3 separate regions of the Homo sapiens genome follow, and regions 2 and 3 are each linked to region 1. The links come from fine-mapping of genetic effects on gene expression. A gene starts in region 1. Each other region holds a variant in brackets. All regions are shown on one strand. Distances are from middle to middle. Region 1 holds the start of AMDHD2 (amidohydrolase domain containing 2). Region 2 has its middle 27 kb from the start of FLJ42627. Region 3 overlaps TBC1D24 (TBC1 domain family member 24).

Region 1 (8,000 bases):
TTTTTTCTCATGACAAATGTCCTGTTCTTTCTTCATCATGTCCTTCAAGAAGTTGTCATTTGCTCCTTTTCTGTATTTCCTGTGACTTCCTCCCTGCTGGCGAGTGCCTTGTATTTTATGCTTGTGTTTCTGCAACTGCTTTCTGGCCCCCCACTCTTTCTGTGGCTGCTGAGCCTAGTGCCGCTCACAGGTCTGCCTTCTGCAGTCTGGTCAGGCTTGGCCTCCGGACTGGAGTCCAGGGTGCTCATGGTATTCCGCTCCTGGTGGCCATCCCTTTCTTCCCTGTGCTCCTCTTGGTGCCTCCTCCCCCTGCCAGCCACATGATTCTTCCTGCTGCCCTCTGTAGAAAAGGGCCTGGCTCACTTCCTGCCTCTGGTGGACTACTGGCCTCACAGGGTCCACTACTTGGGTTGCTGAGTTCCCTGTATTCAGTCTCCTGCCAACGTGTCTGCCATGCTCTGGTCTCTTGTGCATACATGATGCAGTTGGATGTGGTCCTGGGCCTGCAGTGGGAGCCCCCTAAAATGCACTGTAATTGCTCTATATGCTTGCCAGGGAAAAAATGCACTGTAACCAGGAGTTCAGGACAGGCGCTGGGACAGGCCCTGGGCCCCAGTCTGCAGGTGCACTGGGTGTTGGCATGGCATGTCTGGGCACCTCCAAGGTGGCGTGGAGGAGGCCGTGTGGCTCCCTGGCCCAGGTCCCAGCCTCCTTCCTCCCTCTATAGTCACTCCCTGGATACCCAGCACCGTCGTCTTGGGTGCCTCTGCAGGTGCTATCCAGAGCCCTTGTCTTATTGCCTTGTTTTTCTGTGACTCCTCTCTCCCGCCAACTTGGGATACTTGTCTGTGAAGCCCTTCCCCAGCACCCCCTTCTCCGCTCTCCTGGAGCATGTCTCTGTGCCTGGAGGTCACCGCGCCTGTGTCCTCACCCCTGCTGAGTGCTGGGACACAGGGTAGGCAAGTTTTGTGGCCCAAATATATCAATAAAATATGAAGAGGAATGGTAGGGGTAGTCCTGGTCCCTTCCACCTCTGACATATGTAGTCTTCTGCAGGTCAGGCTGTTTGTGTGTGTGTGTGTGTGTGTGTGTGTGTGTGTGTGTGTGTCTGTCAGAGATTCACTCTTGTTGTTTGTTTGAGACGGAGTCTCTCTGTGTCGCCCAGGCTGGAGTGCAGTGGCGTGATCTTGACTCACTGCAACCTCCACTCCTGGGTTCAGGCGATTCTCCTGCCTCAGCCTCCCTAGTAACTGGGATGACAGGCATGCGCCACCACTCCTGGCTAATTTTTGTATTTTTAGTAGAGACGAGGTTTCACCATGTTACCCAGGCTAATCTCGAACTTCTGACACCAGGTGATCCGCCCGCCTTGGCCTCCTAAAGTGCTGGGATTACAGGCGTGAGCCACTGCGCCTGGCCAAGTCAGGCTGGTTATTGATCTGCTCCCCTAAAAGACCATGGCATGAGTTCTGTGGGCAGAGAGGGGGCAGGGAGTTGCCAGTGCAGTCCCCACAAGCAGCTCAGTAGGCCCCTGTGGTGGCCCTGGAGGGCAGCTGGCAGAAGTCAGAAAGGCAAATGAGCCCCCGTGACACTGCTGTGTCCACAGAATTCTCCACTTTGAGAATAGGGCCCAGGAGAGGGGAACTGAAAAGAAAGGCAACATTCTCTTGGGAGAGGAAGGAGGGACAGCTCTGGAGGAGACAGGCCACCCTGGAGCCCAGCCCACCAGCACTGTTGCGGTGGGAGGCTTGGGCCCTCTGGCCAGGCTCCTGTGTGCTTGGAGCCACCCCGTGTGCAGGGGAGACCTCTCTGGGAGGTCAGCTGAGGCCTCGTAGTTGGACTGTTGATGATCCCCGTCGTCTTCTCTGCCCCCATCCTCTTCTTGGCTCACCCTGTCTCCTGTCTGGTAGAGAAGATTCTCCAATCTGTCAAGGGTTCAGGCCTGCTGTGTGGCTGAGGGTGCTGAGAGCTGCCCTTTCTGGCAGAATGTTTGGCCCTCCTAGGTTAATATTTGGGGCTGGGAGCGTTGGGGAGCTTGGCCTGGGCAGTGAGTCAAGGGAGCTCTGGCCTGGGTGACAAGAGTGGCCAGGTCAGCTGCTTCTGACCCTCCGGTCACACCCTGTAGCAGTGGCTTTGCCATCCCCAAGACCTTTGGTGGCTTTTCCAGCATGTTGTCCTGGGCAGTAGCCCCAAGGGTCGACTGACCCTGACCCCACATGGGGGCTGCTGAGGCTGCACTGAGGCTCCCTGGGGTGACAGGTGGGTTCACTGCAGAGCCAGGAGCCCCAGATGGGTCACGCCGCCCCAAGAGCTGCTGCTGGAGGAAGAGCTGGACTCTGAGGGTGGGGGCCTCACGTAGAGGAAGGAGGAGTGGCTGTCCTGGCCTCCTTTTGCTTGCCCGTGGCTGTTCCTCCTGGGTCCTCTTGCCCTGGGCTGGATGCCTTCTTCGGCTCCCCCTCTGCATGTGATAACTTGGGGTGGCCCTTGGAGCTGTGCCAAAGCTACACCTCGGGGTCCTAGTCTCAACTGGCCTGCGTACTGCTGTGGGCTCACCCCGCCTTCCTCCCACAGCCCTGGGCGCTGCCTATGGCACAGCCAAGAGCGGTACCGGCATTGCGGCCATGTCTGTCATGCGGCCGGAGCAGATCATGAAGTCCATCATCCCAGTGGTCATGGCTGGCATCATCGCCATCTACGGCCTGGTGGTGGCAGTCCTCATCGCCAACTCCCTGAATGACGACATCAGCCTCTACAAGTGAGCACTGGGGTCAGGCCCCTGCCCAGGGCTGGAGGACTGCAGGGAGGGGGGCGGTTCACCTGTGGGTGGTGACCCGGACCCTTGTCTCCCCCTGGTTGGCAGGCTGCTGATGTCAGTCCTCTCTTCTCGCCCCCAGGAGCTTCCTCCAGCTGGGCGCCGGCCTGAGCGTGGGCCTGAGCGGCCTGGCAGCCGGCTTTGCCATCGGCATCGTGGGGGACGCTGGCGTGCGGGGCACCGCCCAGCAGCCCCGACTATTCGTGGGCATGATCCTGATTCTCATCTTCGCCGAGGTGCTCGGCCTCTACGGTCTCATCGTCGCCCTCATCCTCTCCACAAAGTAGACCCTCTCCGAGCCCACCAGCCACAGAATATTATGTAAAGACCACCCCTCCTCATTCCAGAACGAACAGCCTGACACATACGCACGGGGCCGCCGCCCCCAGTAGTTGGTCTTGTACATGCGCAGTGTCCTAGTGCCCATCGTCTGTTTCCCCGGCCTTGCCCCCGCCCGCCCCGTGCCGTGGACATCTGGGCCCACTCATCGCCCCTCCAGGCCCCCGGCGCCCCACCCCCTAGAGTGCTCTGTGTATGCGGATGATTTAGAATTGTCATTTCTCTTTACTGGATGTTTATTTATAAAGATCTGGCCTGTTCCTGCGTCTGCGGAGCGGCCCTTGTCTCCCAGCTATCTATAACCTTAGCTAGAGTGTCGCCTTGTGGGTTCCTGTTGCTGAGACTTCCTGGATGGAGCCGCCCTCACCGCCGGGCCCGTGGCCCTGCGCGGAGCTGTGTCCAATAAAGTTCTTGGATGTGACGGGCCTGTGTCTGCTCAGCTTGTTGGGGGCGGGGGCGGGCGGGCGGGCGGGCGGGCGCCGGGCGCTGCCGGTCACGTGGGCTGGCTCGATCACGTGGGCGCGGCGGTCACGTGGCGCGCCGCTTCAGTCAGCTGAAGGTCACGTGGGCGCGGTCTCAGCTCTCGGCTGGGGTTCGTCACTGGGCGCGGGATTTGGCCGCCGCGGGGCTCCGGAGCCGCTCGCTCCCGACACGGCTCACGATGCGCGGCGAGCAGGGCGCGGCGGGGGCCCGCGTGCTCCAGTTCACTAACTGCCGGATCCTGCGCGGAGGGAAACTGCTCAGGTGGGCGCGGGCCGGGGACTGCGGGGCTGGGGACCGGGCGGGGTGCAGGGTGCGGGGCCGGGGACCGGGCGGGGTGCAGGGTGCGGGGCCGGGGACAGGGCGGGGTGCAGGGTGCGGGGCCGGGGACCGGGCGGGGTGCAGGGTGCGGGGCCGGGGACCGGGCGGGGTGCAGGGTGCGGGGCCGAGGTCAGGCCCGCGATGCGAGCGCCCACCCACTGCGTCCCCAGGGAGGATCTGTGGGTGCGCGGAGGCCGCATCTTGGACCCAGAGAAGCTGTTCTTTGAGGAGCGGCGCGTGGCCGACGAGCGGCGGGACTGCGGGGGCCGCATCTTGGCTCCCGGATTCATCGACGTGCAGATCAACGGTGCGGCCCGGGGCCGGCAGGGGAACCCAGGGGAGGAGCTCTGAGCTCCATGCGACACTTCCTTTTCTGTGGCTGCAGGTGGATTTGGTGTTGACTTCTCTCAAGCCACGGAGGACGTGGGTTCGGGGGTTGCCCTCGTGGCCCGGAGGATCCTGTCGCACGGCGTCACCTCCTTCTGCCCCACCCTGGTCACTTCCCCACCGGAGGTTTATCACAAGGTGAGGTGAGGCTCCCTGGCTGAGGTGGAGGGGGCTCCCGGAGCAACCAGCGCCCTCATTTTCAAACTCACGCCCCACCCCCCACCCCCAGCACGTATTCCATGGTCCTGAGTCTGGCCTCCTTTGATGACCGGATCTGGGCCTGGGTCCCGCCCCTGTGCTTCTTTATCAGTTGTCGCTCTGCCTGGCCTCCCTAGACCCTCTGTCCTCCGCAGCTGTCTCCACACTGCTGGCTCAGCACCGTCTGAGCCATAGGCCGTCCCCACCCCCTGCACTGCACTCTGGCTGCCTCCAGGCTTCAGAAACCATCCCCTTAACCAAGGCCGCAGGGGATTCTGTGATTGGCACAGCGATAGTCCCTGGTCAGGCTCTTCCTCCCTAACCTGTCTGATGTGTGACTCAGTGGAACACGCCTTCCAGAAGAGACTCCCCCTGCTCCTGTACTGCTTGCCCCACGCTTCCATTTTCTTTCCTGCCCGGAAGAAATTTGGTTGTCCTTGGTCTTTTTTTATTTTAATTTTTACTTAGGTTCTACAGGGTTAACTTTTTGCTGTATGTTACTACTATTCAGGCTCCTCTTGGCTGTACCTGTGCTACTGTTTTTTACTGAACTATTTGAGAGTAGGTTGTATCCAACATGCTTTTTTTTTTTGTTTAGTTTTTTTTTTTTTTTTTTTTGAGACGGAGTCTCGCTCTGTCGCCCAGGCTGGAGTGCAGTGGCACAATCTTGGCTCACTGCAGGCTCCGCCCCCCAGGGTTCACGCCATTCTCCTGCTTCAGCCTCCCAAGTAGCTGGGACTACAGGTGCCCGCCACCTCGCCCGGCTAATTTTTTGTATTTTTCGTAGAGACGGGGTTTCACCGTGTTAGCCAGGATGGTCTCGATCTCCTGACCTCGTGATCCGCCCGCCTTGGCCTCCCAAAGTGCTGGGATTACAGGCGTGAGCCACCGCGCCCGGCCAGTTTTTGTTATTTTTAAGAGACAGGGTTTCTCTCTGTGGCCCAGGTTGGAGTAGAGTGGTGTGGTCATAGCCCATTGCAGCCTCATTCTTCTCTGCTCAAGCGATCCTCTTGCTTCAGCCTCTTGAGTAGGTAGGACTACAGGTGTGTGCCACCATGCCCAGCCAATTTTAACATTTTTTGTAGAGAAAGTCTCACTGTGTTGCCCAGGCTGGTTCTGAACTCCTGGGCTCAAGAGATCCTCCTGTCTTAGTCCCCCAGAGTAGCTGGCACTACGGGCTTGTGCCACCACACCCGACTAATTTAAAAAGCTTTTTCGGCCGGGCGCGGTGGCTCACGCCTGTAATCCCTTTGGGAGGCCGAGGCAGGCGGACCACGAAGTCAGGAGATCGAGACCATCTTGGCTAACACAGTGAAACCCCGTCTCTACTAAAAATACAAAAAATTAGCTGGGAGTGGTTGCGCCTACCTGTAGTCCCAGCTACTTGGGAGGCTGAGGCAGGAGAACCGCTTGAACCCAGGAGGCAGAGGTTGCAGTGAGCCGAGATTGCGCCACTGCACTCCAGCCTGGGCAACAGATCGAGACTCCATCTCAAAAAAAAAAAGTTTTTTGTAGAGACAGGGATCTCATTATGTTGATCAGGCTGGTCTCAAACTCCTAGGCTCAGGAGATCTACTGCCTCGGCCTCCCATAGTGCTGGGATTATAGGCGAGAGCCACTGTGCCTGGCCCATCATGCCTGTTTATTCCTTAGTACTTAACTTTTTTTTTTTTTTTTTGAGACATAGTCTCCCTTTGTTGACCAGGCTGGAGTGCAGTGGTGCGATCTCGGCTCACTACAACCTCCGCCTCCTGGGTTCAAGCGATTCTCCTGCCTCAGTCGCCCGAGTAGCTGGGACTACAGGCGCCCGCCACCATGCCCGGCTAATTTTTGTATTTTTAGTAGAGACGGGGTTTCACCATACTGGCCAGGCTGATCTTGAAATCCTGACCTCACGATCTGCCCATCTCAGCCTCCCAAAGTGCTAGGATTACAGGCGTGAGCCATGGTGCCCAACCAATACTTAACTATTTCTTAAGATAATGAATATTTTCTTATGGAGCCACAAGAGTTAGTGAGTTTAGAAAATGAACCCTGTTAACAGTACTTTAATTGAGCCGTCTGTGTTCTAGTTCTGTCCAGAGCCCCCGCCGTTTTCCCCTCCAGCACAGGATTCATTTCAGGATCATCACTTGCGTTATATGCCCAAGGGGTCCCTCTCTTGGTGTGTGGGCAGAGCCAGAGCTGGGAACAATGGGGGTGGTGTGTGGGTTCTGGGCTCAGGCTTCCTGGATTTGGCATTGGCCTCCTGATGTCATGTATCGGCTGGAAGACTCAGGACAACCTTCTGCCTTTCTGAGCCTCCGTTTCCTCAAACCTGAAGTGAGGATGAAGGCAGCGTGCATGGCTTAGGGGCGTTGGGTGCTCAGCATCGTGCGTGAGATGCTGAGTGTTCACCACTCAGTATTAGCCATGGATGTCTTTTTGGAAATTTCCCACAGCCCTCCCCACACAGAGTCAAATGTCAAAAACCTGCTGCCAACTGGCACCTGGTTCTCACAGCTGCTCTCTGGGGCTCTGGGGCCTGTCAGAGCCACCTGTCCAAGATTCAGGATTCAGCACATCACCTCTGCCCCACCCCTACCGGCAGCATTCCTTTCCTACCTGTCCAGCCTCTTCTCTGTCCCCAGCCACATTCCCCACTCCTGCCCCCAAACTCTTGGCCTAGAAGGCCCTGGCCTGCTCCCCAGGCCTCCTCTGCTAAGCCTTGCCTACCTGTCCCCACTGTGCCCCCCACTGCCTGCGCATCTCTGGCCAGCACAGGCGTGGGAGGAACTATGGCTCTTCTTCCTTAGGAAGAGTCTCTGACAAGTAGGACTTTGTTTTCTTCCCAGCATGCACTGCAGTGCAGGTGTCTTAACCCTTGGCGCACACACAGGATGAAGGCAGAGAGCCAACTATTGAGGGTGGGAATTGGGAAGCCTCCTGCCTGGATCATCTTAGAAACTGGAGGCCCCTTTTCACTCGGGTCTCCCCTGTGCCGTGCACGCCACCTCTTCCAGGGCCCACTCACCCTGGGTGGAATTGGATGGCCACTTTGCCAGAAGCTTCTTCGGTCTTTTGTTGTCCTGTTCTGGTCCATTAAGACCACCTTCTCTTTTCTGGGGGGTTTCCGCCTGTCCTTTGCTACGGTACTTGGAGACAGGTGAGCTCACTTTGTTCTTTGCTTTAAGTCTGTTACCTCCTGAGCCAAGGTGAGGCACCTCCAGGGGGCAGCCAGGCCCCTGCCTCTGGCCCCGCACACCCTCTACACTTTGACCTTTCCGGCTGTTTACCTGCCTGGAGTGTGCCTCACTCCCCTCCCCTCAGTTGATCTTTTACTGTGCTCTCTCTATGTAGCGCCCTCTTGCTCCCTTCTAAAACTCCATTCTGGAAAAACTCAGCCATTGTCTTTTTTTGTTTGTTTTTTTCCTGTTTTAATCTTTAGTGAGCCTGTGTATCCATAGGGCTTGTGAGGAAAAAC
Region 2 (9,972 bases), 91 kb after region 1:
GAGATTAAGGAAAGAATATTCCTCGAGTTGGACTTAAGCATGGATCTGGTGGAAGAGTCCCTGCCTGGATTATTAGACTTGTGTGGAGTGAGCACCTGGGCTTGCAGAGTGTGGGGGTCTGGAGAGGGGTTGGGTGGGGAGATTTAAGGGGGAGGAGTTCCCAAGAAACCATAGAAGCTTTGGGTGCCTGAGAGGTTGGGAGAGCACCCTGCTAAAGCATCCTATCTGGTAGGGAGGGGAGCTCTTGACAGACGGGTTGTTAGGGAGGGTGGTGAAAGCCACGCACATCAAGGGGCTGGCTTGATTGCCCTCTGGCCCCACATCTAAGCTTCTGGGCTGTGACTGCCCCCAACCAAGTCCTCAGAGCCCAGCTTGGGACCCACCACCCGCCATACTCCACGCTCCCAAGCCCTTACTCTGCTGTTCCAAGGGCCGACCTGCTGCCACAAAGTTCTCTTTCTAGACAGCCCGGTGTGAATTCTCACTTCCTCCTGGGACTTCCTCCAGCAGGACTGTGGCTGTGGTGAGCATTTCAGCATCTGCTCATCTGCTGTTCTGTCATCTTTCTCTTCCTTGGTGTCTTCGAGGGCAGGCCAGGTGGAATACGGCTTCCCAAAGACTCGATTCATTTTGGTTAGGTCTCTTGTATTGCATGGTCCCCGGCCCATAGGCATTGTTGAAAACAAAGTCGAGTTTGTTGTTTCCAGCTAAAGCAGCCCCTGCTTTAGTGTGGAGATACTTGAGGAGTTAAAAGGAAACAGGAAATACTACTGCTTTATGGTTGGAAACCACTCAGATGGAGGAGAATTTGGGGAGGCTTCGGTTCCTGCAGCTGAGGCAGCCTTGGAGAAAACTGCACGTGAACTTTTGCCCTTTGAACAGGGCCGTTGTCCCGGCTTGAGGGTTCCAGATGTGGTGGCATCAGATGGGTCTTTGAGGGGTGGGGCAGTCAGGGTGCCTCTAACAGTGTACTGGGTGTTGGCAAGACCTCGGGGGTGGAAAGTTATGGAAGGAATTGTTCAGACAGGGCCCAGTGATGGGGTGTGGGCTAGAGTACCGTCTTTGAAGCCGCTTGGCAAGAGAAGTGGGGATCACGTCTAGTGGAGATGGCAGATGATGTACTGTGTAGCCAGCACTGGTGAGAGACTGTGCCCATCCCGGGCCTGCCTTGTGACTTCGGGTGATTTCCCGTCCCCTGTGAGCTGTAGTTTCTTCCTCTGTAAGGTAAGGGTGACGTCCTCCCCTGAAGATGACAAATGTGGTGCCCCTGCCCCATGCCTGGCACCAGGTCAGTGCAGTCAGGAGAGGCTGTGCCTGGAGGTCTTCGTGTTTGTACTTGTTTTTTTTTTGAGACGGCGTCTCACTCTGTTGCCCAGGCTGGAGTGCAGTGGCGCGATCTTAGCTCACTGCAAGCTCCACCTCCCGGGTTGACATCATTCTCCTGCCTCAGCCTCCTGAGTAGCTGGGACTACAGGCACCCGCTACCACGCCCGGCTAATCTTTGTGTATTTTTAGTAGAGACGGGGTTTCACCGTGTTAACCAGGATGGTCTCGATCTCCTGACCTCCTGATCCACCTGTCTTGGCCTCCCAAAGTGCTGGGATTACAGGCATGAGCCACTGCACCCGGCCTGTACTTGGTTTTTGTTTTTAAATATTTGAGACAGAGTCTCACTCTATCCCGCCTCTATCTGGGCTCACTGCAACCTCTGCCACCTGGGTTCAAGAGATTCTCTTGCCTCAGCCTCCCAAGTAACTGGGATTACAGGCACAAGCCATCATGTCTGGCTGATTTTTATATATTCTGTAGAGATGGGGTTTCTCCATGTTGGCCAGGCTGGTCTCGAACTCCTGACCTCCGGTGATCTGCCCACCTCGGCCTCCCAAAGTGCTGGGATTACAGGTGTGAGTGTACTTTACTTTTAGGAAGGATATGCTAAGAACGCTTTTCCCCTCCCGCAGCCACACTTAATTTCTGTTAATGTCGACCTCTGGCCACACTCAGCCCTGTCAGCCTCGGGTGATGCACCGGAGGTCCCTGAAGGCAGCATGTATGGCCAGGAGTGGCTCGCCCTGCCAGTCCCCCTGCTGCCACCCAGAGCTCTGGCTGACCCTAGCAGCACAGGCCCCCGCTGAGTGGGTCTCCACCTCTGGGGACTGGACCCTGCACTGTGGGGAGGGCAGGGCTTCCTGGGCAGCCCCCGAGTTTTCTTGCAAGAAACCTGACACCCCTGCTCCTGAGAGGGCTCCAGTTCCTGCCGAGCAGAGCAGGACTCTCTGCAGCGACCTCGGCTTGGCAAGACCCCCCGTGGTTCACCTGAAGCATGTTTCTTCCCCGAGAAGCCGCAGGACCTCTTGTGAGGGGCCAGGTCGTGAGTCCACACACGTCTGCTTCTCACTAAGCTTTGAGTCATGTGTGGGGCAGGGACCTCCCAAATTCCAGTTTCTATGCTGGGTGAGGCCGAGAAGCAATGGAAGGGAAGGGTGGTGGGGAGGCAGCAGGCCTGGCGACCAGGGCACAGGGGCCCCACCCTGCTCTCCGAATCTGGCTGCCTTGGACAAGCCTCCTTGGTCTCTGGCCTCAGTTTCCCCATTAGTAATTGGTGACATCAAAGTCCTCTTGTGGGCCAAAGATATGCCACAGCTGCATAAAACAAAACAGAAGAGAGAGTAGAGGTGAAGGTTTTGTGTGCGAAATTGAAACAGAGTCACTTGAAATGGATAATTTCAGAGTAAAAACTAAGTATTTCTAATTAGGTTGATTGCAGATGTTGGTGCACAGGAAATTCTATGCCTTCGCGTCTAGATTTCTGTGGGGCAATTTGACAGAGTTTATCTCCTGGATTGGCTCAGGGCACTGCACCCTCTTGATTTCGTTCCCCTCTGGTGGCACGTGTCTCCGAGCACCGGGAATGACTGAGAGCCGCAGGGCCGACCCTCTTTGCAGAGCTCTGGGAGCTGCGGGAGGGTTGGGCAGCAGCAGGGTTATGTTGGGTTCAGAATCTGGCGTGAGAGCCTGGCAGTCTCCACCCTCATTCCTCACTGCCGTTTTTTTTTTTTTTGAGACAGAGGCTCACTGGATCGCCCAGGCTGGAGTGTAATGCACAATTTTGGCTCACTGCAACGGGGCTGTCAGGTTCAAGTGATTGTCCTGCCTCAGCCTCCCTAGTAGCTGGGATTAGAGGCACCCTCCACCAAGCCTGGCTAATTTGTGTATTTTTAGTAGAGACAGGGTTTCACCATGTTGGTCAGGCTGGTCTTCAACTCCTGACCTCAGATAATCCGCCCGCCTCGGCCTCCCAAAGTGCTGAGATTACAGGCGTGAGCCACCAAGCCCAGCCCTTCACTGCCATTTTCAAGGCTGGTGGTTGCATTAGGGACCTGTTCCTCAGGGGCTGGGGTGCCCCCATGTTGTCTCTGGTGCTTTGCTTGCTGGGTGACAGCATGGAGGGTTGAGGGCTGCAGCCGGAGTCTGGTGACATGAGCAGAGTGGGCAGGCTTCTCACCAGCCTTCTCTGAGTGCTGCTCTCCTAAACAGACTTCCCTCTGTGTTTGTCCTGTGGACTTGGGGAGGGGGCAGCCAGCTCTGTCTGTGGGATCTTCTTCTACCTCCTGAGACTGTGTGTGCCCTGGCTTGGCGCTGCCTCCCGTGCGCTCCTCTCCAGGAGACAACCTTGGCTCCTGCTCTTGGTGTGGCCAGGATCCCTCTTCTCCTCTATGGTTTGGAAACCGGCCTGCCTGGCCTGCGGTGGGTGGCTCCGGCTGAAGGCTGTGACCCCTGGAGATGGGTGGGTCAACCCAGCCTGCTGGGCCCACCCAATACCAGCTTGGGCCCGGCCCCAAGTAGGTCAGATGCCGGTTCAGCAAGGTGCGGGGAAGATGAGGGAGATGACTTGCTAAGAAAAGTCTTAATTATGGCTTTTTTTTTTCAGACGGAGTTTTGTTCTTGTTGCCCAAGCTGGAGTACAATGGCACAATCTTGGCTCACCACAACCTCTGCCACCTGGGTTCAAGCGAGTCTCCTCCTTCAGTCTCCTGAGTAGCTGGGATTACAGGCATGCACCACCACACACAGCTAAGTTTTATATTTTTAGTAGAGATGGTTTCACCATGTTGGCCAGGCCAGTCTCAAACTCCTGACCTCGTGATCCGCCCACCTTGGCCTCCCAAAGTGCTGGGATTACAG[G/A]TGTGAGCCACCACACCCAGCCAATTAGGGCTGTCTTACAAAAAAAAAAACCACCACGAACCTTTGCGAGAATCGAGCGCAGCCTGTGCTGGTTGTGTAAGCCGTGGGACACACGGGAAAGCCAGGAAGAAGAGGAAGAGCACCCCCACACCCCACCCGCGTGAAGAAGAGCAACCCCACTCCCCGCCCGTGGGAAGAAGAGCACCCTCACGCCGGGCCCGCAGGAAGAAGAGCACCCCCACGCCCGGCCCGCAGCATCCCGCTGGCTTCCTGGCCACCTCTCCTCACCCATCTTAGAGGCATGGCCGGGCTGGGGCATCTTTCCCTCCTTGGGCAGGTACCGCTGATGGCCTTGTGGGCAGCACAGGGGCCTTACCTGGGTCGGCTCAGGCACTGTTCTGAACATCCGTGAGGTGACCTTGCTCCCTTTGTCTCCGTGAGCCTAGGAGTATATCCTGAATTTTTTATGTTTTTGTACTCCCCATGTTCCATATTTTTGTTTCTGCATCAGGGTGGAGGCTATTGAGCCACATCCCTGACACAAGCAGTGAGCTGCCAAGGCCCTTGCGCCTGAGCTTGGCACTGTCTGGGCCTGGGCTGGTGCCATGAGTAGACCCTGCACGCACTAGGCCAATCTGGAGCACGTGGCTCACCCGAGCTCAAAGCACCGACACCCTGCACGTATATGGATGCGAGTCAGGCCTCAGCGAGACCTGAACCCTGGTAGGATTGAAGAGTGTTGGTTTCAGACCCCAGCACTTACTGTGAATGTGGAAATCAGCCACTGAAAGCCTCAAAAGAGCACAGTGGTGAGAGCAGCACCAAGCCCACTGCCAGTACACCCAGTACGCTGCTGGGTCCTCAGGCCTGTTCCTCTGTCCTGCTGTGTGGTTTTAACTGATGGCCGTCCTCGGCCCGCCCTCCTTCCCTCCTGCCTCCGTCCTTCCAGTTGCAGGGCTGGGGCTGCCCTGGTTGTCTGGGGGCACCCAGTACAGTTTCTTCTCCTCTTGCATCGGCCCAGGGCCCGAGAAGCGCATGGTGGGTTGTCTTGGCCTAGAGGTCACGGCTCAGTGCCCAGGTCCTGCCACAGGTTGGGTGCCCTGGCACTCATGGCGGCCCCGAGCTACACGAGCTGGTCTCCCCCACCTTTTGCTCGTAAAGAAACTGAGGCTTGGGGTGGCCTGGCTGTGAGCCTGCAGTCTGACCACTGAGGCCAGGCCTGGAGGCCTCCATGGCTGACAAAGGGGTTCTCTGGGGTTGTCCTGGGCAGAGGCGAGCCTCCGCCCTATCTGATCTTTCCTGACCTCCTGCCAGCGGTCTGTCGAGGTAGCAGTGAGCCGTGAATAATTCCTGAGCTGAGCGGTGTGCGGACGTCACGCGGCCAGCATTCTCTCTGTATGGGGGTGGGGCAGGGAGGAACCCTGGACTCGGGTGGCAGCACTGGCCGCCTTGCCAGACTTGGGCCCCTTTGTGGGAAATGGTGTCCATTTTTTAGCAGTTGCGCAGGACCGCCCAGCGTCCTCTTTCCGGGAGCTGGCCCTGTGGCCCCGGCCCTTGCTTGAGAGCTGTGGAGTCTGGAGGGCTGGGGAAAGGCAGGGCCAAGCCCAGGAGGCAGGGCCTGTGGGGTGGGCAGCTCTGGCTGGAGTGTTCCGGGGGAGGGTGGGGAAGGAGGATAGGGTCAGGTCTGTGTGGAGCTGGGGTCACCCTAAGGAGTAGGGGGGCCGCCGAGGCTCCGGGTCCAGCGCCCCCATGCCCGGAGCCCTAATTGATTTTATCTCAGCCACAAAACTCAGTCCCTGTGATCTAAAAAGAGCAGGTTGTTGCAGGTTTGCGGTGGTGGACTTTGGGAAAATCTCTTGAGACCACTAGGTCTTAGCACCCAAATGGCAGAATTTGTCCATGGATGAAAATAGGGTCCTAGCGTGGCCCCGTGCTTTGTGGTGGAGACACCTTCGGCCTCCCCATATCTGCGAGCCTGGCATTCCCGTGGCCAGCGCCTGCCCATGGCCCCACAGGAGCCACCATCTGGTGAGGGGGCTGCTCCTGCTCCGAATGGGGTGTGGGGTTGCTTCTCCAGCGCTTGGCCCTGGGCCTCGCCGGGGAGGCTGCCGGTGTTTCTGAACGGAGGCCTCAGCTCCCCGGCCTCCAGGGCACCCGCAGGCACCAGCCCCTGTGGGAGTGGCTCGCAGGTGGGAGCAGGACCCTTGCAGGCATGTGGGGGGAGGCAGGAGCTGCCCCAGCAGAGCCACACGGAAGGTCTGAGTCTGTGTAGAAGACAGGCTGTGCCAGCTTCGCAGTCCCCCCATCAGATGTGTAGCCGACAAGACAGAAACTGCCTCTTCCGTCTCCCCCATGGGGGCTGCCTGGGGCGTCTGAGCCCCCGTCCTGTGTTCACGGCCGGGCCACTGGGGCTCTTGTGCTTTGTGGAAGGGGCTGCAAGGTGTGATGTGTGGGGCACCCCGGGCCTCAGAGGGCATCTGCCCACATTGAAGTGGCCGTGGTAGCAGCAGGGGCAGTGCCTCTCAGGGGTCCCTCCACCCAGGTGCGTGAGGACACCTTCCGAGGGGTCTGTTTTGTAAACATCTCGGCCTCCGTGAGCGCTGAGCCGGGGCGAGGGCTCTGTGAGGTGAGTGATGATCTTGGGGAAAGCCCCGGATGCTGTTGAGTGCAGGTCACTGTGGCCTCCCTCGCTGCTGGCTCCCGGCCTGTTGGGCAGCCGCCCCTGCTGAAAGGTGCCCTCTCCACCCCTGGCAGGAAGCCCCTGTCACCCTGACCCCCCGTTCCTGCATGTAGGCTGCGGAGGACCCGGGCACGAGGAGCGCAGGCCCAGGCTGGTGGCCATCAGAGGTGTCCTTCTGAGGCTGAGCCCTAGGCCCCTGCCCTGCCCGCGAGGGCATCTCTGGGTGAGGTTTTCGTGTGTGTTTTCCTAGAGGTCTTGCAGTTGTGAGGACAGAGGTCCAGGGCACAGTGGGCTCACCTTGGAGTACGCAGAGCCAGGCTGCCTCCGTACGGAGAGACTTAAACTCACTTAGACCTGGGGTGGTGGCTGGTCAGGGTTAGGCTGTAGGCGGCAGGACGTGGCCACACCGTCAGGGGTTTCCTGAGATGCCGCAGGCTCAGGTGTGCTGGGGAGAGGCCTGGGTAACCTGGTGCCTCTGAAGCCTCCTGAGGTGGCCGGGCCTTGGTGGACCTGCAGGAACCTTCGGCTTCTCACGGAGGACTCACCGTGCTCTGCTCTCTTTAGGATGAAACAGGCGCCTATTTAATCGACAGAGACCCCACCTACTTTGGGCCTGTGCTGAACTACCTGAGACACGGCAAGCTGGTGATTAACAAAGACCTCGCGGAGGAAGGTAAGCCGAGTTTTGGGCACAGGTGCCTTAGCTTTGGGGGCAAGGGCCCGACAAAGGTGCCAAGGGCTCCACTTAAGACACAGATGCCTGCAGCCTGGGGCCCCAGGGAGGAGCAGGCCCTGTACTCTGAAGCTGGGGCCGACGTTCTGGTGCTGAGGCCACGGGCAGCGGCACAGCTGCCGGACAGGGAGGCCTGGGGACCCTGTGGGTGTGGGGTCCTCCCTGGCTGCAGCTCCTTGGAGGGCTCCCTCTGTCCAGGCTCCGGCTGGCGACACAAGGGGTGTGAGGGGTTCCTCCCTGCTGTGACTGAGGTGGTCTGAGCGGGTGTGTGAGGCACATGCCCGGTGATGCCCACGGCGTGCTTCAGGGCCTGGTTCCCTGGCCTGCTCTCCCTCAAGGACAGCCCAAGGGTGGTGAATGTCTCTGTGCCATCACCTGGACTGTGCCTGCTGCTGCCAGCTGCCGTGTTCCATTCTGAGTGATCGTGGTGCAGGGACGGTGCCCACACGCGTTGGGCCCAGGCTGGCCTGCCTGTGTGCTGCGGTGCTGGCTTGGCTCAGAACAGCTCGAGGCCTCGCCGTGAAGGCTGAGGGTTTCTGGGCACCTGCGTGCGGGCGTGGCCCTGCTCCCCCGGGTCCGTGTCTGCGCATCGGTCTGCACTGGGCAGCGTCTGACTCCGTTTCTGTTCTGGGCCTCTGGGCCTGGGCATCTGCCTGCCTCCTCCGAGTTCACGCGGGGCGTGGAGTGACGGGGGCTGTGGCCCAGCCCTGCCCCTGCTCTGAGGCTGTGAGCCATGATGCCCACTCCTGTCTCTTTGGCAGGGAATGTCTTTCACATGCACTCTCTCTGGGCAGCCGCTTGTGTTCTGTCGTGGAGCCACTCGAGTTGAGGCTTCGTTTTATCTCAGTCTGCCCCTAGTGGGATTGGCTCAGAAACAGGCACTAGACACAGACCAAGGCCCTGCCGCCCAGGCTCACCTCTAACCCACCCCTGACGCAGCCACTCACGTCCTCGGTGCTGGAGAAGGGGGCTGTGCGGGACCCATGCGGGGCTGGGAAGTCTGTGACACTGAGGCCCTCATCTCCTTGTCTCTATCCTGTGTGGCCCTGTCCCATGTAGGTGGCTGGGTGTTGTCCTGAGCTGCCATGTCCCATATGTGGGTTCCTCTGGGATCCTGGAGGAATGAAGACCACCCATGAGGAAGCCCTGAGGCAGGACCTGTGGAATCTGCTCTTAAGGCTCTTAAGGGAGGTTTGCAGTCCCTAAATGCTTCAGGTGGCCACGTCAGGCGGCACAGACTCCGCTCCCCAAGCCTGGCTCCCTTAGAGTTTGGGCTCAAAGGATGTCGGGAGGATGAGGGGCGTTACACAGCAGGTAGGGGCGTTGGGAAACTTTGACACTAGCAGAAATTTAGCTGTGGATGACTTTTAGATAAAATCTAGAATTCCCAGCTGGGTGCAGTAACTCATGCCTAAAACCCCAGCAGTTTGGGAGGCCGAGGCGGGTAGATCACTTGAGGTCAGGAGTTCCACACCAGCCTGGCCAACACGGCGAAACCCTGTCTCTACTAAAAATACAAAAATTAGCCGGGCATGGTGGTGCACACCTGCAGTTCCCGCTAGTCGGGAGGGCGAGACAGGAGAATCGCTTGAACCCACAGCGGCAGAGGTTGCAGTGAGCCGAGATCGCACCACTACACTCCAGCCTGAGTGACACACCAAGACCCTGTCTCAAAACAAACAAAATCTGGACTTCCTCAGTCATGGAAAGTGGAACTCCGTACACGGTGCCAGTTAGAATAAGCCATGGCGACAGAAGTCAAACCAGAAAAATGGATCTCATGATAACAGCACTTAAGTACGAGGGGGTCACGGGGGAGGTGGCAAGAGGAACTCAGAGGAAACAAGGCTGAAGTGGGCGACATGCCTGCCTCTCACAACACCCTCGGTCCCTTGGGCACATGGTCCACGCTCTCTACGAGAAGCTTAAAGAGCCAAGCGTGCTGAAGACCCCATGGCTGTGGTCAAGCTGGGAGACCAGCAGCCTCAGAGCCTACTCAGCACTGAAGAAGGTACCAGTGTCCCCACCAACGCCACGTCCCAAAAGTTCAAGCACACAACACTCGGGGGTTTCTGTGGAAAGACAGGCAGTGTTCTGGAGCATCTTGGCCGCACAGTTGTACAAGCACCAAGCCAAGCGCAGATGCGACAGGCCGGGCAGGAGGCCCCGTACGTGGGACCCCGGGGCCAGTGCCGGGGGTGCTCGGCGTCCGGTTCTAGCGGCACCCTGTGGGTGGAAACTCACTAGCCTGTCCACGGCCACGGAAATGAGGAGAAAATGACCCACCCAGCACCTCACCCGCCACTGCCTCACGGCAGCAAAGACTACAACCACCAGCAGGCCTGCCGCAGTGGCACAGACACCCTCCCCTTTC
Region 3 (10,755 bases), 28 kb before region 1:
TGGAGCTTCCCTGGGCTGGAATTCTCTGTTTGTCGCTCGCCCCCGCCTCCAGCATCCCCAAGTGGCCTGGGCTCTGACTGCCACTGTCAGGCCACGGTCCTGTGGGATCCAACCCTGAGCCATCTCTGGGGGTCCCCTCATCTTCTCCACCCTCCCGGTCTAGACTCTGCCTTCCTTTCTCCCTGGCTTCTCTGTCCCAACCCTTCCTCCTCCAGGGCCACCAGGGGGATTTTTGTAAACGCAGATCTGATCGGGTCACCTGCCTAGACTTTCCTCCTACCCCGTGTGGGGACACCCGCCTCTTAGCGCATCCCAGCCCCTCAGCACTGCCAGGGCCGCCCAGCTCGCCTTCGCCCACTCTTGCCTCCACATCTGAGGGGCACCGTCCCCACCCACAGGCTGCCTCCACACCTTTCCGCCCCTTCCACAGCAGCAGGCACAGCCCTGCCCGTGGGGTTCCCCTAGCACTTCCCCAGCTGCCGTGGTTGACAGCCTTCTCTCAAGCCGCCTCTCCCTGGCACAGAGGCGGCACCTCAGTGGAGGTCTGTCATGTGACTAACTGCAGGACGAGGGAGCCGCGGTCGTATGCTGCCTCCTCACGTTTGCTGTGACCTGGGACAGGAGCGGTCCCCAGGAAGGGAGGCACGGTGTCGGGGTTGGTGTTGGCCGTGTTAAAATGTCATCAATGAGGCTAAATGTGTGTTCTGTCTTTGTACATGAAAGAGAGTTTGTTTTCAAATCCGGTTGTTTGGGAAAATCACATTCCCCTCTGAAGAAGCGAGACGTGCAGAGGCCTCGTGACTCAGGCTGTCAGGCCTGGAGTTTGGTGCTGGAGTTTTGTGCTGGAGTTTGGTGTTGGAGTTTGGTGTTGGAGTTTGGTGCTGGAGTTTGGTGCTGGAGTTTGGTGCTGGAGTTTGGTGCTGGAGTTTGGTGTTGGAGTTTGGTGTTTGGGGATGGCAGGTGGTGTTACTAGTGGCAGCCTTGCCGGGGTGGCCTGTGTCTCCAGGACTCGTGGGAGGGCCCTGGTACTAGAAGTGGCCGAGTGCCCTGAAGTCCCAGACCTGCGTGGGTCCTGCCTGTGCTCAGGGACCCTCTGGAGCCTCTCTCGGAGGTCCTCGCTGTCCCAGGATGAAGGGAGATGGAGCAGCAACAGCAGCCAGCAGCTGTGGGGTTGTGTTCCGCCCCGAGGCTGGGGTGAGCTGCTTGTCTGCTGGAGCGAAGGGGCCAGCTGCCCCGCTGGGGCCCCTCCTGCCCCGTTCTCCAGTGAGGATCTACTTCCTCCCACATCCATGCTACCTCCCACCTGCCTCCTGGCTAGAAATTAGCTCAGGGTGCCACACTCTTGACAGACGGCCCGCCTCCCAGCCCTGGCCGCCTTCCTCTTCCTGTGGGCGCCTTCAGGGGGTTTGCTGCCAGGGACGGATTTGGGGGTTTCTTGGAGCTCCCATGGAGTGAGGACATAGGCTGCTGTTGGGTGTTCCTGGCTGAACACTGGTCAACTGGCAGGAACTGCCCTCCCTGGGAAGGCTGCTGGGGCTGTGGCGGGGTGGGGGTCTGCAAGCCTGTAGCCATTTAAAGGGCCCCTCCTCACATGTGGTAGAGCCAGAACTGTGCCCTGTGGCCAGAGGGCACGGTGGTCACATGCGTCAGATGACATATCAAGATAACATTTTGGGGAAATAGAAATCGCTTATACTCATTACTCATTCGCACATAGCTTTTTTTTTTTTTTTTTTTTTTTTTTTTGTGGGATGGAGTCTCGCTCTGTCGCCAGGCTGGAGTGCAGTGTGCAGTGGTGCAATCTCGGCTCACTGGAAGCTCTGCCTCCCGGGTTCACACTACTCTCCTGCCTTAGCCTCCTGAGTAGGTGGGACTACAGGCGCCCGCCACCACACCTAGCTAATTTTTGGATTTAGTAGAAATGGGGTTTCACCATGTTAGCCAGGATTACAGGTGTGAGCCACCGCACCTGGCTGCTTTTTTTTTTTTTTTTTGAAATATTTGGCCGGGCGCGGTGGCTCACGCCTGTAATCCCAGCACTTTGGGAGGCCGAGGCGGGTGGATCACGAGGTCAGGAGATCGAGACCATCCTGGCTAACACGGTGAAACCCCGTCTCTACTAAAAATACAAAAAAAAAAAAAAAATTAGCTGAGCGTGGTGGCGCGTGCCTGTAGTCCCAGCTACTTGGGAGGCTGAGGCAGAAGAATCACTTGAACCCGGGAGGCAGAGGTTGCAGTGTGCCGAGATCGTGCCACTGTATTCCAGCTTGGGTGACAGAGTGAGACTCCTTCTCAAAAAAAAAAAAAAACAAGAAAGAAATATTTGCTTTGGAGCAGGAACAGAGTGAGACCCTGTCTCAAAATGAATGAATGAGGCATGGCCCAATGGCTCACGCCTGTAATCCCAGCACTTTGGGAGGCTGAGGCGGGCGGATCACGAGGTCAGGAGTTCGAGATCAGCCTGGCCAACATGGTGAAATCCCATCTCTACTAAAAATACAAAAAAATTAGCCGGGCGTGGTGGTGGGCGTCTGTAGTCCCAGCTACTCGGGAGGCTGAGGCAGGAGAATGGTGTGAACCCGGTAGGCGGAGTTTGCAGGGAGCCGAGATCGCGCCACTGCACTCCAGCTTGGGCGACAGAGCCAGACTCTGTCTCAAAAAATAAATAAATAATAAATAAATAAATAAACGAGCGAACAAATGAATACAAACATTTGCTTCTGATCTGCAGGTACCTTGAGCTCTCAAACAGGCGTGGCGTTTATGAGGAAAGGCCATGTAGGTCCCTGGAGAGGCTTCCCGGGTGAGAAAGAAGCCGCACTGGGTATGGAGGGCAGCTTGGCTGTGGAGAGAGGCATTAGGAGGGGACGGTGGCCTGTGAGAGAGCTGCCCCTGGCCCGTGCAGTTGCACCTCCCTCTGCAGGACCGGCTGCGTGTTGACCCGCTGGGACCGTGATGTCCCAGGCATTCTAGAACACCTTTCTAGCACCTGGCCTGGGACCCTGTAAGGATGAGAGCATCCTCAGGCAGCTGAGCGGTCCTGGCCGGCCGGGCTGGGCTGAGTGCTTTCTATCAACAGGCTCAGTAAATCCCGCAACAGAACAGGGACTAGAGCCCATCCCTTGCCAGTTTCCCACTGCGCTTGGAATATAATCCACGGGGGCTTGTGGGTGTGTCCGTGCTGCCCTCTGCGCCCTGTAGCGCAGCCAGCCTGTTCCTCCCTCAGCCTTTGCACCTACTCTGCTGGTGTCTGGAGCGCTTCATCCTCAGCAATCCCGGCTGCTTCTTTCTCACTCCTCTGGCTCAATGTCATCTCCTGGGAGAGGTGTGCCCTGAGGATCCTCAGTAAAGTAGCTGTCACCCTCCAGACCCACGGTGTGGACCCCCACCATCTGAAACTGTCTGTGTCTGTAATTCTTGTGAGTCTCGTGGGTGTCAGGTGGAATTTTTCCTATTTTCCTGGAATTGCAGGCTGGGCCCAAGGCTGAGGACCAAAGACAGGAGGAGTGCTTCTCTGCTCCACACTCAGGGAGCTGCTGGCAGCTGGGCTGACAGGTGCCACCTCGGAGAACCAGCGCCACCTCACTCCGTGCCTCTGCAGGGAACTGGAGCCTGGTGGGGAAGCACACTTTAGGTGAAGGCAGTGCAGTGTTCATGGCGAGCAGCGATTCGCTCGGACCCCAGAGGCCACAGGAAGATGGCTTCCCCCACAGGAGGCACCCTCACAGGGCCCTGCTGGCACTGTCTGCCTTGGGCTGCCTGAACCCGGAGAGAGAGTGGGATAGACTGTTCATGGGGTGTCACCCTTATGTCACCTGCACCCCACCCTGTCAGTCCAGAGTGAGGCTCAACCCACAGGGGTTGCTTGGGAACTGTTGCCCGTGAGGAGTTGGGTGTTATTATCGGCTCCGCTCTGCAGACATGGCAACCGCAGGTTAGGGAAGATGCACGGCTTGTCCGCATTTCAAGCAAACAAGTGGCAGAGCTGGACTTTGTGGCCAGGCCTGTCTAACTGCAAAGCTGCCCCGTTTCCACAGTAGCCCCTGCCTCCCCTCTCACTCCCTCCCCGGCCACCGCCTCCGGCTCTGCACCTTTGTCAGGGGTTGGGGGACTGCAGGGAACAGAGGAGGCCTTGTTTGCTGCGTAGGAGCAGGTGCGGCTTATGATGTACAGCAGCAGCCAGCCAGCAGATAGACAACAGGGAAAGCCACTCGGCCGTGAAAGCTCACCTCCAGAGTGTGGGCACTCAAGCCCATAAGTGCTCCAGCCTGGGATAGTTTATGTTTTTGATCAGTTTCCACCTCCCCTTACCTCCTCATCTCAGTTGCCAGTTTAAAGAAAACCTCACTCAGTTGTGAATGCAAGAAAAAGGTTTGGCAGGATATATACCAAAATGTGAATAGCGATTATCTGTATGTGGAAGGGGAGTAGGATTAGAGAGGTAATTTAAACAGAACTCTACATTTTTACTCCCTAATTTTGGTACTATTTGACTTTTTGTGATTTTTGCATTCAAATATCACCAGCGTAATGAAAGACTTTTTTTTTAACCTAAGGAAACCAATCTGGACCTCGTTTTTATTTATGTATTTATTTTTTATTTTTGTTTTCATTTTATTTTTTTTTTCAGACAGGGTCTTGCTCTGTCACCCAGGCTGGATGGAGTTCAGTGGTACAATCAGGTCCCACTGCAGCCTTGACCTCCTGGGCTCTGGTGATCCTCCCACCTTAACCTCCTGAGTAGCTGGGACTACAGGTATGCGCCACCACGCCTGGCTAATTTTTTTTTTTTTTTTTGAGATGGAGTCTCACTCTGTCGTCCAGTCTAGAGTGCAGTGGCTCCATCTTGGCTCACTGCAACCTCTGCCTGCCGGGTTCAAGCGATTCTCCTGCCTCAGCCTCCCACGTAGCTGGGACTACAGGCATGTGCCACCACACCCAGCTAATTTTTTGTATTTTTAGTAGAGACGGGGTTTTACCTGCTGGCCAGGCTGGTCTCAAACTCCTAACCCTGTGATCCACCTGCCTCGGCCTCCCAAAGTGCTGGGATTACAGGCATGAGCCACCGTGCTTGGCCCGCCTGGCTAATTTTGGTATTTTTTTGTAGAGATGGGGTTTTGCCATGTTGTGTGGGCTAGTCTTGAACTCCTGGGCTTGGCGTCCAAAGGTCGTCCCCGTTCAGCCTCCCAAATAGCTGGGATTACAGGTGCATGCCACCAGGCCTGGCCATTTTTTTTTATTTTTGGTAGAGATGAGGTCTCATTATGTTGCCCAGGCTGGTCTTGAACTCCTGGGCTGAAGTGATCCTCCTGCCTGAGCCTCCCAAAGTGCTGGGATTACAGATGTGAGCCCCTTTGCTGGCCTGGACCTGGTTTTTATAGATGCCTTAAGTGGGTTGTTGCCTTGTGTGCACAGCCCCAGAAATGTCGTGCGCTCTTTTTGAGTGAGGGTTTGGGGAACAAGAAAGAATCCAAGGGCTCCCTCGGGTCTTTTGCACACATCCTTGGCTCGGGGGTCCCTGTGAGTCCAGCACGTCGCCGGACCATTCGCGGCAGTAAACACAACTTGGGATCTGCATCTCCCTAAGGGAACTTCGCAAGGTGCACCCACAGCTTTTACTGTTTCCAGTTTAATATTCAACCTGAATCTGGGGCCAGCCGAGTGGAGGCTGGTGCTGCTCTGCCCAGCTCCTGTTCTGTTTAGAAACATGTTTATTGCCTTAAGAAGGAGCCAGTTCTTTCACCCAAACAGGATGGGCCTGGAGTTCCTCCAGAGGCTAGTGGGCCCATAGCAGGGAAGGAGGGATGTAAGCTGTGGATAACCGACCGACACGTGTAAGATTGTGCAGTGTGACCCAGGCGTGGCTGTGCGCATGTGAGTGGACCTGTCGGCCTGACCTTCAGGACCAGGGAAAGGGGGAGCCCTCACTGCCTTCCCTCCCAGGACGAAGCAAACCAATCAATGGTCTTAAGGGTTTCTTTTCTTCTGAGGCCTAGTCCTGCTGTGGGCAAGGTTTTTCCAGTGGGATACATTAAAATCAACTTCGGTGGCTCACGCTTCTAATCTCAGCACTTTGGGAGGCTGAGGCGGGCGGATCACCTGAGGTCGGGAGTTCGAGACCAGCCTGACCAACATGGACAATCCCTGTCTCTACTAAAAATACAAAATTAGCCGGGCGTGGTGGCACATGCCTGTAATCCCAGCTACTTGGGAGGCTGAGGCAGGGGAATCGCTTGAACCCAGGGAGGCGGAGGTTGCAGTGAGCTGAGATTACGCCACTGCACTCCAGCCTGGACGACAGTGCGGCACTCTGTCTCAAAAAAATAAATAAATAAAAAATGGCTAAAATGGTAAATTTTTTGTTTGTTTGTTTGTTTGTTTGAGACAGAGTCTTGCTCTGTCGCCTGGGCTGGAGTGCAGTGGCACAATCTCGGCTCACTGCAATCTCCGCCTCCCAGGTTCACGTCATTCTCCTGCCTCAGCCTCCCGAGTAGCTGGTACTACAGGCTCCCGCAACCACGCCCGGCTAGTTTTTTTGTATTTTTAGTAGAGACAGGGTTTCACTGTGTTAGCCAGGATGGTCTCGATCTCCTGACCTCGTGATCCACCCGCCTC[G/A]GCCTCCCAAAGTGCTGGGATTACAGGCGTGAGCCACCGCGTCCGGCCTAACATGGTAAATTTTATGCTATGTGTATTTTACCACACACACAAAAACACGTGTCGAGGTGTTTTCCCAAGACAGTGTCTCGCAGACGTACGTTTTACACTATGATTTTTACTTTTCAAGAACTGTTTTAAAGCAGTATTTGCCTTATAATAGGTAGGTGAATGTTCTAGCTGCAAGAGAAACCGGAGTGGTCTGGTCACTCAACCAAAACCTGCTGAAGCAGACCCCTGGGGCACACTGGGAACTTCTACCATCCCAGGTGGAAAGGTTAGTCTGATGTGCGTAAGCAAACCTTGCACTTCTGTGCGCAGGACGGTATCCTTGGGCCAGGGCAGCCACCTGTTGTCCAGAATCCCACAGGGCACGTCTTACCCACTCCTTTTATGTTTGCCTGAGCCCAGGGGTTGCTGTTCTTGGAGAAACACCAACCACCCCCACTTGACTTCTGGCCCATTCGGATCCAGAAATGTGCAGTTTTAAAGCTGCAGCACCTTCCATTTAGGTCCCAGCTCTCCCTCTGGAAAATGCCTGCTCCTCACCAGAGATTCCTCCCTGGAGCACCTGCCTGAAGCATAGCTTTCAAGCTGGTGGTTTTAGAAAGTTAAGAGCCGGCTTCAGAATTCCGACAGGGTGGGATAGCATAGGCTGTGACTTTCTTAGCACACACAGCTGGTTAAAGAGAACTGGGAACGGGCTGGGCGTGGTGGCTCACGCCTGTAATCCCAACACTTTGGGAGGCCGAGGTGGGTGGATCACGAGATCAGGAGTTCGAGACCAGCCTGGCCAACATGGTGAAACCCCATCTCTACTAAAAATACAAAAACTGGCTGGGTGTGGTGGCGGGTGCCTGTAGTCCCAGCTACTCAGGAGGCTGAGGCAGGAGAATCACTTGAGCCCGGGAGGCGGAAGTTGCAGTGAGCCGAGATTACGCCACTGCACTCCAGCCCGTGCGACAGTGCAAGACTCTGTCTCAAAAAAAAAAAAAAAGGGAGAACTAGAACGAAGCATCTCTTTGCTCAAAGTGATCTTCTCAACTGGGGGTTCCTTTTCAGAAGGCCCCCAGGGTGCAGGGTGGTGTTTAGGAGCCTGGAGTGGACCATGCTCGAGTGGAAAGGTGTTTTCAGCAGGGTCAGCCTCTTTTTTTGGTAGAGATGGGGTCTCACCATGTTGCCCAGGCTGGTCTTGAACTCCTGGCCTCAACTAGTCCTCCCACCTTGGCCTCCTGAGTAGCTGAGATTATAGATATGAGCCACTGTGCCCAGCCAAGGGCCAAGCTCTTGAAGCCCTTCTGGGAACTCTATCTCTAGCCTCTCATTACTCAGAATCTGTGTGATGTATTCCAGTAACTTCATAAGTTCTGTGAAAAGAAGGTATACTCCAAAGTTTGTAACGGCTTCTCAAAAGTCACTTATCTTAAGTGGAAGCCCTTCTAATACTTACACAAAGATTAAGGCAAATAATGTGGCTGCGCAACGTGACTCTCACTCGTAATTCCAGCATGGTGGGAAGATCACTTGAGGCCTGCGGTTCAAGGCCAACCTGGGTGACAGAACAAGACCCCATCACACACACACACACACACACACACACACACAAAATAAATAATAATAATAATAATAAACAAAAAAACAGGCCAGGAGCACTGGCTCACACTTGTAATCCCAGCACTTTGGGAGGCTGTGGTGGGTGGATTGCTTGAGATCAGGAGTTTAAGACCAGTCTGGGTAACATGGCAAAATCTCGTCTCTACTAAAAAGAGAAAAAATTAGCTGGGCGTGGTGGCGCCTAACTGTAGTCTCAGCTATAGCTGAGGTGGGAGGATCACCTGAGCCCAGGAGGCAGAAGTTGCAGTGTGCCGAGATGGTGCCATTGCACTCTAGCCTGGATGTCAGCACAAGACCTTGTCTCAAACAAAACAAAACAAGGCCGGGCACAGTGGCTCATGCCTGTAATCCCAACATTTTGGGAGGCCAAGACAGGAGGATTGCTTGAGCCCAGGAGTTCAAGACCAGCCTGGAGAGCATAGCGAGACCCTGTCTCTACAAAAAAATAAAAAATTAGGCCAGGGCGGTGGCTCTCGTCTGTAATCCCACACTTTGGGAGGCCAAGGCAGGCACATCACAAGGTCAGGAGTTTGAGACCAGCCTGACCAACATGGTGAAACCCTGTCTCTAGTAAAAATACAAAAAATTAGCCAGGCATGGTGGTGCATGCCTTTAGTCCCAGCTACTCAGAAGGCTGAGTCTGGAGAATCGCTTGAACCAGGGGCGAGGAGGTTGCCGTGAGTGGAGATCGTGACACTGTACTCCAGCCTGGGCGACAGGGTGAGACTCCATCTCAAAAAAAAAAATTAACTGGGCATGGTGGTGGACACCTGTCGTCCCAGCTACTCAGGAGGCTGAGGCAGGAAGATGGTTCAAGCCATTCAAGGCTGCAGAGAGCAGGGTCACGCCACTGCACCGCACTCCAACCTGGGCAACAGAGCGAGACCCTGTCTCAAAAGAAAAGAAAACTACACCACATTTGAAAAAATACGTTCTTTAAAATGTGAACCTTGAAACACAGATGCTAAAAGTGTTTTTTTAATCCTGCAGGGTGTGAGATGGCAGACAGGTTTGCAGGAAACCCTCAGAAAGGGGGCTGGAGGATTTAGCCACTCTGTCCTCCCCTTCCGGCAGTCCAGGGCCTCCTCCCGAGCACAGCGGCGCTATGGACTCTCCAGGATACAACTGCTTCGTGGACAAAGACAAGATGGACGCTGCCATCCAGGACCTGGGGCCCAAGGAGCTGAGCTGCACTGAACTGCAGGAACTGAAGCAGCTGGCGCGCCAGGGCTACTGGGCCCAAAGCCACGCCCTGCGGGGAAAGGTGTACCAGCGCCTGATCCGGGACATTCCCTGCCGCACGGTCACGCCTGACGCCAGCGTGTACAGCGACATCGTGGGCAAGATCGTGGGCAAGCACAGCAGCAGCTGCCTGCCGCTGCCCGAGTTCGTGGACAACACGCAGGTGCCCAGCTACTGCCTGAATGCACGCGGCGAGGGGGCCGTGCGCAAGATCCTCCTGTGCCTGGCCAACCAGTTCCCCGACATCTCCTTCTGCCCCGCCCTGCCGGCCGTGGTGGCCCTGCTGCTGCACTACAGCATCGACGAGGCCGAGTGCTTCGAGAAGGCCTGCCGCATCCTGGCCTGCAATGACCCCGGCAGGAGGCTGATCGACCAGAGCTTCCTGGCCTTTGAGTCGTCCTGCATGACGTTTGGGGACCTGGTGAACAAGTACTGCCAGGCGGCCCACAAGCTGATGGTGGCCGTGTCGGAGGATGTCCTGCAGGTCTATGCGGACTGGCAGCGCTGGCTGTTTGGGGAGCTGCCCCTCTGCTACTTCGCCCGGGTCTTTGACGTCTTCCTGGTGGAGGGCTACAAGGTGCTGTACCGCGTGGCGCTGGCCATCCTCAAGTTCTTCCACAAGGTGAGGGCCGGGCAGCCGCTGGAGTCGGACAGCGTGAAGCAGGACATCCGCACGTTCGTCAGAGACATCGCGAAGACGGTGTCCCCTGAGAAGCTGCTGGAGAAAGCGTTCGCCATCCGCCTCTTCTCCCGCAAGGAGATCCAGCTCCTGCAGATGGCCAATGAGAAAGCCCTGAAGCAGAAGGGCATCACCGTGAAGCAGAAGAGGTAGGTCGCCGGCAGCCTGTGAGGGGTACACCCAGGGTCGGGGGCTGGGGCAGGACGTGTCTGGCGTGAGCTCATCCTGCCGGCCTCCAGGCGGCCTCTGCCCATGGTCCACCCAGCCATCTGTGCATGGCTGAAAAGACACTGAAACAGGAAGGGCCTTCCCAGTTACAGCCACAGACGAGGGACATCGGGTCCTATCCTCTGGGGCCAGGCCCACGGCTGAGATGAAAGCTGATGCTGGCCATGGGGTCGCAAGGCATCGTGGGAGGCCAGGCCCACTCCCAGGGTCATTTCAGGGCAGCCTCTGCTCCACCCCTCCGGCTCTGGGCTCCGTGGCTGGTCTCTGCTGTGGCTGCTGGGCGTGGCCTCCCCGCCTGGAGCACAGCCCCAGGGGAGCAGGGTCAGGAGTTCATGGTG

Evidence for each region. PIP is the estimated chance that this variant, and not a neighbour inherited with it, causes the effect. A credible set is the group of variants that fine-mapping cannot tell apart.
Region 2: its variant is the best candidate, but not a certain one, in a credible set for the expression of AMDHD2 in whole blood (INTERVAL, PIP 0.76).
Region 3: its variant is the best candidate, but not a certain one, in a credible set for the expression of AMDHD2 in whole blood (TOPMed, PIP 0.54).

What each region holds. Positions count from the first base shown.
Region 1 is chr16:2,516,647-2,524,646 of GRCh38, forward strand. AMDHD2 (amidohydrolase domain containing 2) reads left to right here and starts at 3,725. Exons shown (of 11, transcript NM_001330449.2): 1 at 3,725-3,895; 2 at 4,123-4,259; 3 at 4,338-4,477. The coding sequence starts at 3,813. ATP6V0C (ATPase H+ transporting V0 subunit c) reads left to right here. Exons shown (of 3, transcript NM_001694.4): 2 at 2,572-2,755; 3 at 2,895-3,572. The coding sequence ends at 3,099. RefSeq lists silencers at 3,591-3,700, 3,871-3,940.
Region 2 is chr16:2,606,531-2,616,502 of GRCh38, forward strand. It overlaps the pseudogene LOC652276. Among named protein-coding and RNA genes, the nearest start is that of FLJ42627, 27 kb to the right of the region's middle. The variant G/A (reference allele first, on the strand shown) is at 4,186.
Region 3 is chr16:2,486,776-2,497,530 of GRCh38, forward strand. It overlaps TBC1D24 (TBC1 domain family member 24), which reads left to right. Exons shown (of 8, transcript NM_001199107.2): 2 at 9,259-10,338. The coding sequence starts at 9,374. Among named protein-coding and RNA genes, the nearest start is that of TBC1D24, 17 kb to the left of the region's middle. RefSeq lists an enhancer at 10,041-10,646. The variant G/A (reference allele first, on the strand shown) is at 6,616.